Linked DNA regions of Homo sapiens. The protein of the gene in region 1 purifies or fractionates together with the protein of each later gene. This does not show direct contact. Each region holds a gene or a part of one and is shown on either strand. Other genes may lie near its edges.

Region 1 (3,500 bases):
GGAGTTTCCAGGCTGGCGGTAGAAACAGGTAAACCAGGTATTTATTTTACATCCTGATGAGTGCACAGTGTCATGGAAGCATCTAAACCAGCCTGGGGGATAAGGATTTAAATGAAAGAAGCAACACTGTCCCTCAATCCCTCCCTTCGTTCTTCACGCCCACCCCATCACATCTCCTTTCCCTTCTTTACACAGAACACTCCTTTGGCCCCTACCCACCTTGAGCATCTTAATTACTTCCTGTTAACCTCCCTGTCGCTCTCTAAGGCATGGCCAGCCCAGGCCGTGTGCTCTTTCTGGAGCATCCCTTTCTACCTCTATGCCTTGGCTCAGGCCATCCCCTATACCTGGCTGTTCTCCCTCCATGTCTTTACCCATTGATCCCTTATGTTTCAAAGTCCTGCTCACTCATTCATTCATTCATTCATTCATTCAACAAGTATCTCCAGAGAGTGCACTATGTTCCTTGCACGTCGATGGGTACCAGGGATATGGAGGGAAATCAGTTACAGCCTATGTCCTCAAGCTGCTCACAGCCATGGGGGGACCGATGGTGACAATAAGGACATGTATGGAAGATGTGAGTCTGGGGGTGTTGTAAGGCCAGAGAAGGATCCTAATCCAGCCTTAGGGGTGGGGGGTATTCAGGGAAGACTTCCTGGAAGAGAATACCTCTGAGTCCTGAAGAATGAGGTGAAAAGAGAGAGAGAGGTGTATATAAATACATGAGAACACATATAATCTTAGGCATCGATGTGACCTATGATTATATGTGTTCACATGTACTTATATGCTAATGTAATAACTAGTGTTTATTGGATGCTACTAGGAGCAGCACTGGACTAGCACATTTGACATATTAGCCTTATAGGGGTGAGGCCTCACAACCTTATAGGGGAGAGGACTATTATCATTCCCATTTCACAGATGAGGAAGCTGAGGCACAGAGAAATTCAGAACTTGCTCCTGGTCATACAGTGACTAAGTGGTAGAGCTCGGGTTCAAACTCATTGCAGCCTCCAAGCCCATGTTTTGACCACTGTTCCCTGCCTTCTGAGGCTGGCCAGGTCATTCTGCCACTTGCTCTTGTCCAATGCATTTATCAGGGACATCTTTCCAGATGGTAAAATTCAGGTTTCCTTCTATTTAATGGCTGCAGAGGATGTCACTGGATTTTAAGCAGGAAAGTGAAATGGTCAGATATGTCCCTCGGAAAGGGACCTCTGGGGATAGAAGGGGGCTGCCTGGAGGTAGAGAAGCCTGTGTTGGGTGTGCAGAAGGAGGAGGAGGCCTACGTTGAGGCTGGGATGGGGTGATGCACAGTGGGGAGGAGCTCGGGAAACACGCGGTGCAGCAGGATGCAGCAGTGACCACCTCTAAGGTGATCAGAAGGGCAAGAAGGCAGTGGGGGAGGCTGTCTCAGGATCTCCTTCCCAACTAGACCTCTTCCAGGTCTGCACATTTTAATTCCCCCTAAGCATGCTCCAGCTAGCACTTCCAATTCAGAGCAAGTGAGCAGCAGCTTCAGCTCCACTAAGATGTGCAGATGTGGTGGTGCCTGTGGAATTCTTAATTCTTTGAATAATCTTTGCCTAGGAGGGTCATGTCTATTTTACAAAAAACAAAACAAAACAAAACAAAACCCAAGAATAACCACAAATTACCCAAGACACTGCTTTAACCCTGCCTCCTAGTAACAGCTCATTCAGCCTCACCACACATAGCCACCTGTCCAGTCCTAAGCATGGACTCCACACCAGTCTCAATCTGTCTGTTTCTCTCCTTGGCCACTGCCAGTCCAAGGGGCTGTCCTCTCCCATCTGGATGACAGCAATAGCCTTGTTACTGGTCTCCCCAGTTACACTCTAGCATAAGTTACTCCATGTCTCTAGCCTCAGTTGTCTCATCTATAAAATGGGCACATGAATATGCATCTCGTAGAGCTGTTGAGGACTGGGTGACATCACAAATGGAAAGCCCTGGAGTGCTTTCTCAACAGACAGTACTTCTTTTCATCAGTCATCAGGACAGGAGGGTCAGAAAGGTCAGGGGCTATTTCTCCCATACCCTGCTGGTCCAGATAATAGCAGGTGCTAGGGACCTCTGGATCGCCCCAACCCCCTTGCCCGCACTCCCCCACCAAGGAGAGGAAAATGCTTCTTGCCCATTCATCATATATCCTGCCACTCGATGGGAGCATCATCACCTTATAACCCAGGGCTCTCCCCAGCTCCTCAATGGCTCCTCCCCTGGTTCCTTGCATGGTGACTGTATCTATGAGTGAATCTGAGAGATGAAATAGGTAAGTAAGTATAACTCAGTCCCTTCTTTTGGGAGCCAGCGTGCCTGCAGGGAGCATGCGTCCTTTCCACTCTCTCCCAGGAAGGACAGGGAGGGGCCACCTCCTGCAGAGCCCAGCACTGCCTGTACCTGAGTGGGCAACTCAGCCCATCCTGGCCTTCAGCATTTGCGAGCCCACACGCTCCACTGTCACTCTGATTAGTAATAACCATGACATTTTGTTCTCCAGCTGCCTTGTCTTGCCTTTTGTCTTCATTCTCGATTGGTACAGAGCTCAGGCTGGGCAGAGGAGTGCTATTTATCGGCCCTTCCCACCGCCCCCTACAGGAGAGACCAGTGGGAGAAAACTCCATCTTGAGTTCCTGGCTTGTTAATGGAGGTTTTCAAGGCTTGGTGAAACCCGCTGCTGTGAGAATCAATCAATAAACAACTGAAAAATATTTATTGAGCTCCTGATACAACAGGGAAAATAACTTATCCTTGCCCAGTGTTTCTTACCACTTTCAAGATGCCTGGAAAGCCGTTCCATTCAAAGGTTTGTGAGCACCATGAAGTGCCAGGCGCTCTGTTATGAATGCAGACCCTACCAGAGGCCCATGTTAGGCTCATCAGGGTGGCCCCGCCACTCAAGTAGTCAGACACCAAGGACAGAGGAAAGAAAACCAGGCTTCCCATATGAGCCTGGGATCAACAATCACGTCCACAGACTCTCCAGACCACAGGTGTGGGCTGGTGGTGGAATTGTGCCTCACCTGGGCCGAGGGCAAGGGGCAGCAGGATGTACTTATTTAATGATGATTAGTGATTCTCTCCAGGAACAAAGAAAAGCTAGCAAGTAAATAAAAGGAACACTCTTGAAAGAGCAAACCAAGTGAAAATTGCCTGGAAAAGTTTGAAAGAAATGAAAAAAGAAGAGAAAGCAGATGCCTCTGTTAGCTATTAAAATACAACCTATACAAACAATCATCAAACCAGCATGGCACAGATCTCCGGTCCTCCTCCTGTGCTCTGTGCCCCTGAACCACATCAAAGGCTCTCTTGCTGTCCACCCACTTCTGATTGGGTTTGGCCACAGGCAGGGCAGGAGGAGAATGACATTTAGTGTTTATTCCCTTCTCTTGGGTTTGGCCACAGGCAGGGCAGGAGGAGAATGACATTGAGTGTTTATTCCCTTCTCTTGCTCCTCCAAACTTGGAGGC
Region 2 (3,500 bases), on another chromosome or scaffold:
CTCCTACATGAAATTAAATGAAATGGACCAAGGCAGACACTGGTCTTCCCTGCAAAGCTAGGTCTTTGCTGCTGGTCTCCTCTCTCTCTGGACATTACACAGGCTCGGGCCTCCATGGAATAATTTTGCACTTCTGCTGCAGGTAGAACAAGTCAGCCAGTTGGCTGTGTTCATAGAGGCAGCATTAGACTATCACAGACAGTCCACAGAGATTCTGCAGGAGCTGCAGAGCAAGCTACAGATGCGGTAAGCACCTCCACGTTTCTTACAAGCCAAGGGCTGCGGAGGTAACATCTATTGAAATCCATCTGTCTGTCTCTCCATCTCTCCATCTCCCCCTTCCCCTGCCTCATTCTGTTTTGAATTTTCTTTCACTGGCTTTCATGGTTGGATGTGGGATGGGACTGAGATAATAAGTACTGGCTTTGGCCAGTAGGATAGAACTGGGAAAAGGGACCTGGCAGCTTTTCTCCTTTTTCTTTTCATTAAATCCCTTTTTTTTGTGACCCGTGTTTAGGGCAACTAACCAAGTTGCTCTCCCACCTGGGACATCAACCCCTACAGAACTACCCTGGCTTCATTGCTGATTTGATGAGAGTTTAACTCCCCATTCACAAAGGGATGGAAAACATCCAGAGCTATGGAAAAAAGTGAGATGCTGTATGGAAAATATGTAAATATCTGTAAAAAAAAAAAAAAAAAAAAAAGGTAGTGCCTTCACTTCACCAGTACGAATTTCAGGATATGTTCATAATATTGACTAGTATTGAAAGAGTCAAAATATTGACAAATTTCAGGCTGTGTTCATAATATTGACAGGTATTGAAAGAGTCAAAAATATCTTCTGAACAATCAAAGAAAGGTTTCTGCATTCCTTGTGAATTTAATCATAGATGTAGTCTATACTTTTCTGAAAATTAGTAATATTATATATAGTCTGCATGGCAACCCTGTTTATTAAAATATTTTAAATTAGGTTTGATAACAGAAAATTGTTTTACACAGGATTATGGTAATGCATAAATTTGGAGGGATTTTTACTTAAATCAATGACGTAGTTACCTAGGGAAGACAAAGATGTGTTCAGTCCCTGAAGCATCCACTTCTGCAGGCAGATAGTTTACCTGTTACTGACAGGAGTGTATTTTCATAATTCTATCATAATCTATAAGAGTAGAGTGAGGGAGAAGGCAGCTCCCATCACTGGGTGCCGACCGCGTCCCAGGCACTTGCTGGATGCCTCAGAGACTTGATGAAGAAAATTAGTCTTTTGTTTTGTTTTGTTTTGTTTTGAGATGGAGTCGTGCTCTGTTGCCCAGGCTGGAGTGCAGTGGCGCCATCTTGGCTCACCGTAACCTCTGCTCACTGCAGCCTCCACCTTCCAGTTTCAAGAGATTCTCCTGCCTAAGCCTCCCGAGTAGCTGGGATTACAGGCGCCCACCACCATGCCTGGCTAATTTTTGTATTTTTCGTAGAGATGGGGTTTCACCATGTTGGCCAGGCTGATCTCGAACTCCTGACCTCAGGTGAGCACCTTGGCCTCCCAAAGTGCTGGGATTACAGGCATGAGCCACCATGGCTGGCCCAATTAGTCTTCTTCAAGATGAATTTCACTCACAAGCTCAAATAGGGAGTTGAAAAACTGCATTTGTGATATCACCTCCATCACTTCGGGCTACTCAAGAGTCAGTGTGTAAAAATCGTCCCTTTCATGACCACTGGCTGTAACCTAAGTTCCTGTGCTCAACAAGGCAGAGAGGATGTGTGTTTGGAAAGCTTTCAACATCAGATGTCTGGCTCATCTTACGATGTGTGTTACAGAATATCAGCTGCATCCAGTGTCCCCAGACGAGAATACAAGCCAAGGCCTGTGAAAAGGAGTTCTAGTGAGCTCAATGGAGTTTCCACCACCTCTGTAGTGAAGACGACAGGTAAGTTGACCATTCTAATATGCTAAGTGTGCCTTTAGTAAAGCACTTCTAGAAACACTTATTTACTGCTTGTTTCTGGGTCAGTGAATACACACAGACCCTGGATATCTTTCTTTGGTTGTTTGGTAAATTCCCTTTTCCCCTAAACGTGCCCCTTTTTTCTGTTCCCTGGGGAAGAATTCTATCACTTATATAATGTAGCATTTAGAACCTTGGCCATAGAACCATTATGGCTACATCATCCTTTATTTTTTTAACTCTTTGAAAATATTTTCTTAATTTATTTTTAAGTTGAAATTAGCATTTTTGAGCAACTGCTATATGCTAGATACTATCTTAAGTGCTGCATCGTTATTTTTTATTAAACAAGTGATGCAAATGTGTCTTTTAGTAAAATAATCAAACAGAAAAAAATTGGTAAAATAATCAAACAGAAAAAAAAATTTAATGGTATAAGTCATTCTATAGTCTCTTGTGATCACCTACACCATCGCAGTTCGCTTCCTAGATGTAGCCACTGTTAAAAAAATTTGGTATAACTATTATCATATCTATTGAGGTACATAAATATACACATAAACAGCGTTTTGGATTTTTTTCTGTTTTTTCTTTTTTTCTTTTTTGAGACAAAGTCTTGCTCTGTCACCCAGGCTGTAGTGCAATGGCATGAACATGGCTCGGTGCAGCCTTGACCTCCTGGGCTCAAGCAATCCTCCTGCCTCAGCCTTCCATGTAGCTGGAACTACAGGTGTATGTGACCCTGCCAGGCAAATTTTTTTATTTTTTGTAGAGACAAGGTCTTACTTTGTTGCCCAGGCTGGCCTGCAACTCCTGGGCTCAAGCAATCCTTCTGCCTCGGCCTTCTGAAGTGCTGGGATTATAGGCATGAGCCACTGTACCCAGCCTTTTTTCTGTTTTTTAAATGCGAGATTATACTAGGCATATTGTTTGGCAGTTTGCTTTTTAAAATGTATCACTGTTTCTTCGAGTTATTTCCATATCATGCATATAGATCTATCCCACTGTTTTAACAGCTTCATAGTTTTCTATTATACCATTTCCCTATTGGTGGACGTTAAGGTTTTTTCCAGTTATTTGCTACAGTGAGTATCCTTTATCACTGTGCTGGCTACATTACTATTAAAGCATGAACACCTGCTTCCCCACACCCATGCCAGTAGACTTCCATTTCTGCCAAGCACTCATGAGAAAAAAATGGTATCCAGTCTTAATTTGCATTTTCATGATTATTAGTGAGGGTGAACTTTCTTTTCTATATTTTAATTTGTATTTCCTTATGTCTGAATTGTCTGTTTATGTCATTTATTTGTGTTTTTTGGGAGTAGTTTGCTTTGTCTTATTGTTTTATAGGAGCTCTTTCCATATGAGGATATTAATAATTTTTTTCCTAGTTTGTCATTTATCTTTAAACTTTGTTTTTGGAGTGCCTTGTCCCTTTGTTGTTTTTGCTGTTGTTTGCTTTGTTTAGTTTTGCTTTGAGTATACAGAAGCTTTTATTTTGATGTAGTCAAATGTGTCTGTCTTTTGCTTGTGACTTTACATTTTGTG
Region 3 (3,500 bases), on another chromosome or scaffold:
ACAGGAATCATGTATTTATAGTTGCCATGGGGTACAGAGTCAAAACGAGGTATGCAAGCAGCTCCTGGGCTTATAATTTTCTTTTTTGTTAAAATTGTTTGCATCCAGTTATATCAGGCCAGTCAAGGCTGTATCATAAATATCATAAAGGCCTCATTAAGGTATTTGGATAATTCTCAGCCAAGCACGGTGGCTCATGCCTGTAGTCCCAGCACTTTGGGAGGCCGAGGCGGGAGGATCACCTCAGGTCAGGAGTTGGAGACCAGCCTGGCCAACATGATGAAACCGCTCTACTAAAATACAAAACTTTAACTGGGCGTGGTGGTGGAGATGCCTGTAATCCCAGCTACTCGGGAGGCTGAGGCAGGAGAATCGCTTGAACCCAGGAGGTGGGGATTGCAGTGATCTGAGGTTGTGCCATTGCACTCCAGCCTGGGCAACAAGAGCAAAACTCCATCTCAAAATAATAATAATAATAATTGAGTACTATTCTATTATTTTCTTCCCAGTTACAAGCATTTAAGTTTGATTAATATATGTATGTAGTACAGAATTCAAAAGTTATTAGAGGACAGAAACTGGAAAGCCTCCCTCCTTTCTCCGACACCCAGTTCCTCTCCCAGAGTCAAGTTACTGTTGCACCAGTTACTTGTGTATCCTTCCAGAGAGATTCTCCATGTATAAGAGAGCGTGTGTATGCGGGCATGCGTGCGTGTGTGTAAGGCAAATGGTAGAATACCATCCACACAATTCTACACCTTGCCATCATCTAACATGTATCTTTCTTCAAACACCTTTGCATGGTAGGAGCTGATTCTCTTAAGTTACAGGTCTCTGATACGGATTAATTTCATATGCACACAAAGATCTATAGCGATACAAGAGTTAAATTAAATATTCTTTTAAATGACCTAGCTGTAGGTTTCACTTGGAGGGAAAAACAAAAAAAACAAAAACTAGCTGTACAAAGTCCAATGCATGTTCTTCTAACAGATTTTCATAGTTCCTCATAGTAAAATCTTACTTAATTTGACCACATTAAACTATAGGAGCTCAAACCAAACAAAAACAAGAGAGACTGAGAGAGAAGAACAAGTGGTGTTTTCTATACTGAAGGAAAACTCTCCACATTACTCCACCCAGTATCCATTGCTGGAGCGAGGGTAGCCTGGGAGGTGGGAATCTGCCCCTCTCTCTCAGCTGCTGAGGTTCCAGGTGTCTTTCAGGATTTTTTGAGGGTAAACGTGAAGATATTTGCTTTCTACACTGGCAAATAAGATAATTCCATTGTGTTATATTCAGTGTATTCTTCATATATTTTATCCTCCTTTTCAGACACAACATTAAGTCCAAGAATTGAACTCTTAAAAGATCAGGCCAGGCGCGGTGGCTCACACCTGTAATCCCAGCACTTTGGGAGGCCGAGGCGGGTGGATCACCTGAGGTTGGGAGTTCGAGACCAGCCTGGCCAACATAGCGAAACCCTGTCTCTACTAAAAATACAAAAATTAGCCAGGCGTGGTGGCAGGCACCTGTAATCCCAGCTACTCGGGAGGCTGAGGCAGGAGAATCGCTTGAACCCGGGAGGCGGAGGTTGTGGTGAGCCAAGATCGCGCCATTGCACTCCAGCCTGGGCAACAAGAGTGAAACTCCGTTTCAAAAAAAATCAAAAGAGAGTCACTTTTAACTAAATACAAGTTTTTGTGTCAACATCCATTCAAGTGTTGGTCCCCAGTTCTTTAGACATCTGTTTTACATTCCGTCAAGTTCCTAAGAGGTGCTGTGTGTTTAATGGTACATGTTTTTTAAGTTCTAAATTAATCTTTAAAAATTAAGTAATTAAATATTCAGAAACCCATATGTGGTTACTGAGCTGTCTCTGCCACCCTTTCAACATTGATCAGTTAACAGGTGTACCTTTCAAGTACTCCCTGGCTGTGCATTCATTGGCTGGAATGATCCCATGAAAGCTGTGCCCAGCCATGCCCAGGACAGGATATAGTCAGGATATGGGCAGTGCTAGTCCCATTCCCATTCCAGGGCAGGACGGGACAAGCACTGGAGTACAGAGGCAGCTCGTCAGTGTGAGCAGACCAGATGATGGCTGTAGCTTTGTATTTGTCTCCTAGCCTCCTAAACCTGGAAGAGATCTGGATGGTAAACGGGGAGGGGACTTTCCCCAACTTTTGCAAGCATTCTGGCTCCCATCAGCCCAGCAAGATGTCCTGTGGGGTGGGAGTGAGAGGGCTGCTGTTGCTCATGCCCACCCCCACCCATTCCCCTGAGTAGAGGCAGGGGGCAGAGCCAGGCAGGGAGTCCACAGCCAGGGTCCCAGGTGAGCAGGACCCCAAGTCTCTCACTGCTTCCAAGCCCTACCTAAGCTCTAGGTAACCCTGGCAGCCCTGGTTCCACAAGCTGCCATCTCTCAGCTCTGGGCCATTTCTCACTGAGAGTCTGGTCCAGGTACCCCCGGTCCCATCCCCAGGCAGCACACAGAGGTTATTTCACTTGAAACAAACTCCCTGTGTGCCTGTGCTATAGTGAAAGCACTCAGATATGTTTCTCTTGGTTCTGCTGGTTATTTGTGGTCACTGAGGCCAGCACATTTATTAACTGCAAAGATCACAGGAAAACTGCCCCAAGCTGAGTCCTGGAGAAATAATGGAAAGTTTCTGAATTGTGGGAAAATATAACTAAGCACTTTGATTTTAAATAAATTCCCATTTCATGTCTATTCTTGACATCATCTTTTTTTTTTTAAGGTTCAGGAATGTGACATGCTGCTAGGTTAAGAATGCTTTTGTGTATCCTGAGGGTCTTGATGATATTTATGTAGAAATCGCCTACCACACGTTACTGTCACAACAGTAATTTTGAAAATGTATTCACCTAATGACATGTGCTCAGTTACTTCCAGGGATTGGTAGTCTGAATTGGCCTTGCCTATGTAATGGGTTTGGATGGTTACTGCTGGGGGAAGAGGGCCATTACAATACCTCTGGGCTGTCCAGCTTGCTTGGGGCCCATACTCGTATCCCATCTGTGGCCTTCGTATCACCTAATATTGGCATTCGGAGAAATGGAGAATCAAAATGACTTGAAAAGTAGTGTCATTGTTATTTATTTTGGAGTAACAGAATGTTTTCTTATCAGAATGAATTTGATAAAGGATAATCGCTTATATTTGGAGATGATATTCTTTTTTTTTCTTTTATTTGAGATGGAGTCTTACTCTGTTGCCCAGGCTGGAGTACAGTAGCACGATCTTGGCTCACTGCAATTTCTGCCCCCCAAGTTCAAGCAATTCTCCTGTCTCAGCCTCCCAAGTAGCTGGGATTACAGGTGCCTGCCAATGCGCCCAGCTAATTTTTGTATTTTTATAGAGACGGGTTTCACCATGTTGGTCAGGCTGGTCTTGAACTCCTGACCTTGTGATCCACCCGCCTCGACCTCCCAAAGTGCTGGGATTACAGGCATGAGCCACCGTGCCCGTCCTAGAG

What was found. The genes of interacting proteins can lie anywhere in the genome.
Region 2: the proteins of HRH1 (region 1) and SH3GL3 purify together in Homo sapiens (pull-down; one study listed by IntAct). This does not show direct contact.
Region 3: the proteins of HRH1 (region 1) and HEATR3 purify together in Homo sapiens (co-immunoprecipitation; one large-scale study listed by IntAct). This does not show direct contact.

The regions. Positions count from the first base shown.
Region 1 is NC_000003.12:11,160,993-11,164,492, reverse strand, and holds part of HRH1 (histamine H1 receptor), read right to left. Parts: exon of another isoform or gene 2,725-3,500; intron 1-2,724. UniProt on the Homo sapiens protein: G-protein-coupled receptor for histamine, a biogenic amine that functions as an immune modulator and a neurotransmitter.
Region 2 is NC_000015.10:83,586,841-83,590,340, forward strand, and holds part of SH3GL3 (endophilin-A3), read left to right. Parts: exon of another isoform or gene 1-135; intron 136-142; coding exon 143-246; intron 247-517; exon of another isoform or gene 518-673; intron 674-1,821; coding exon 1,822-1,931; intron 1,932-3,500. UniProt on the Homo sapiens protein: Implicated in endocytosis. May recruit other proteins to membranes with high curvature.
Region 3 is NC_000016.10:50,086,470-50,089,969, forward strand, and holds part of HEATR3 (HEAT repeat-containing protein 3), read left to right. Parts: intron 1-3,500. UniProt on the Homo sapiens protein: Plays a role in ribosome biogenesis and in nuclear import of the 60S ribosomal protein L5/large ribosomal subunit protein uL18 (RPL5). Required for proper erythrocyte maturation.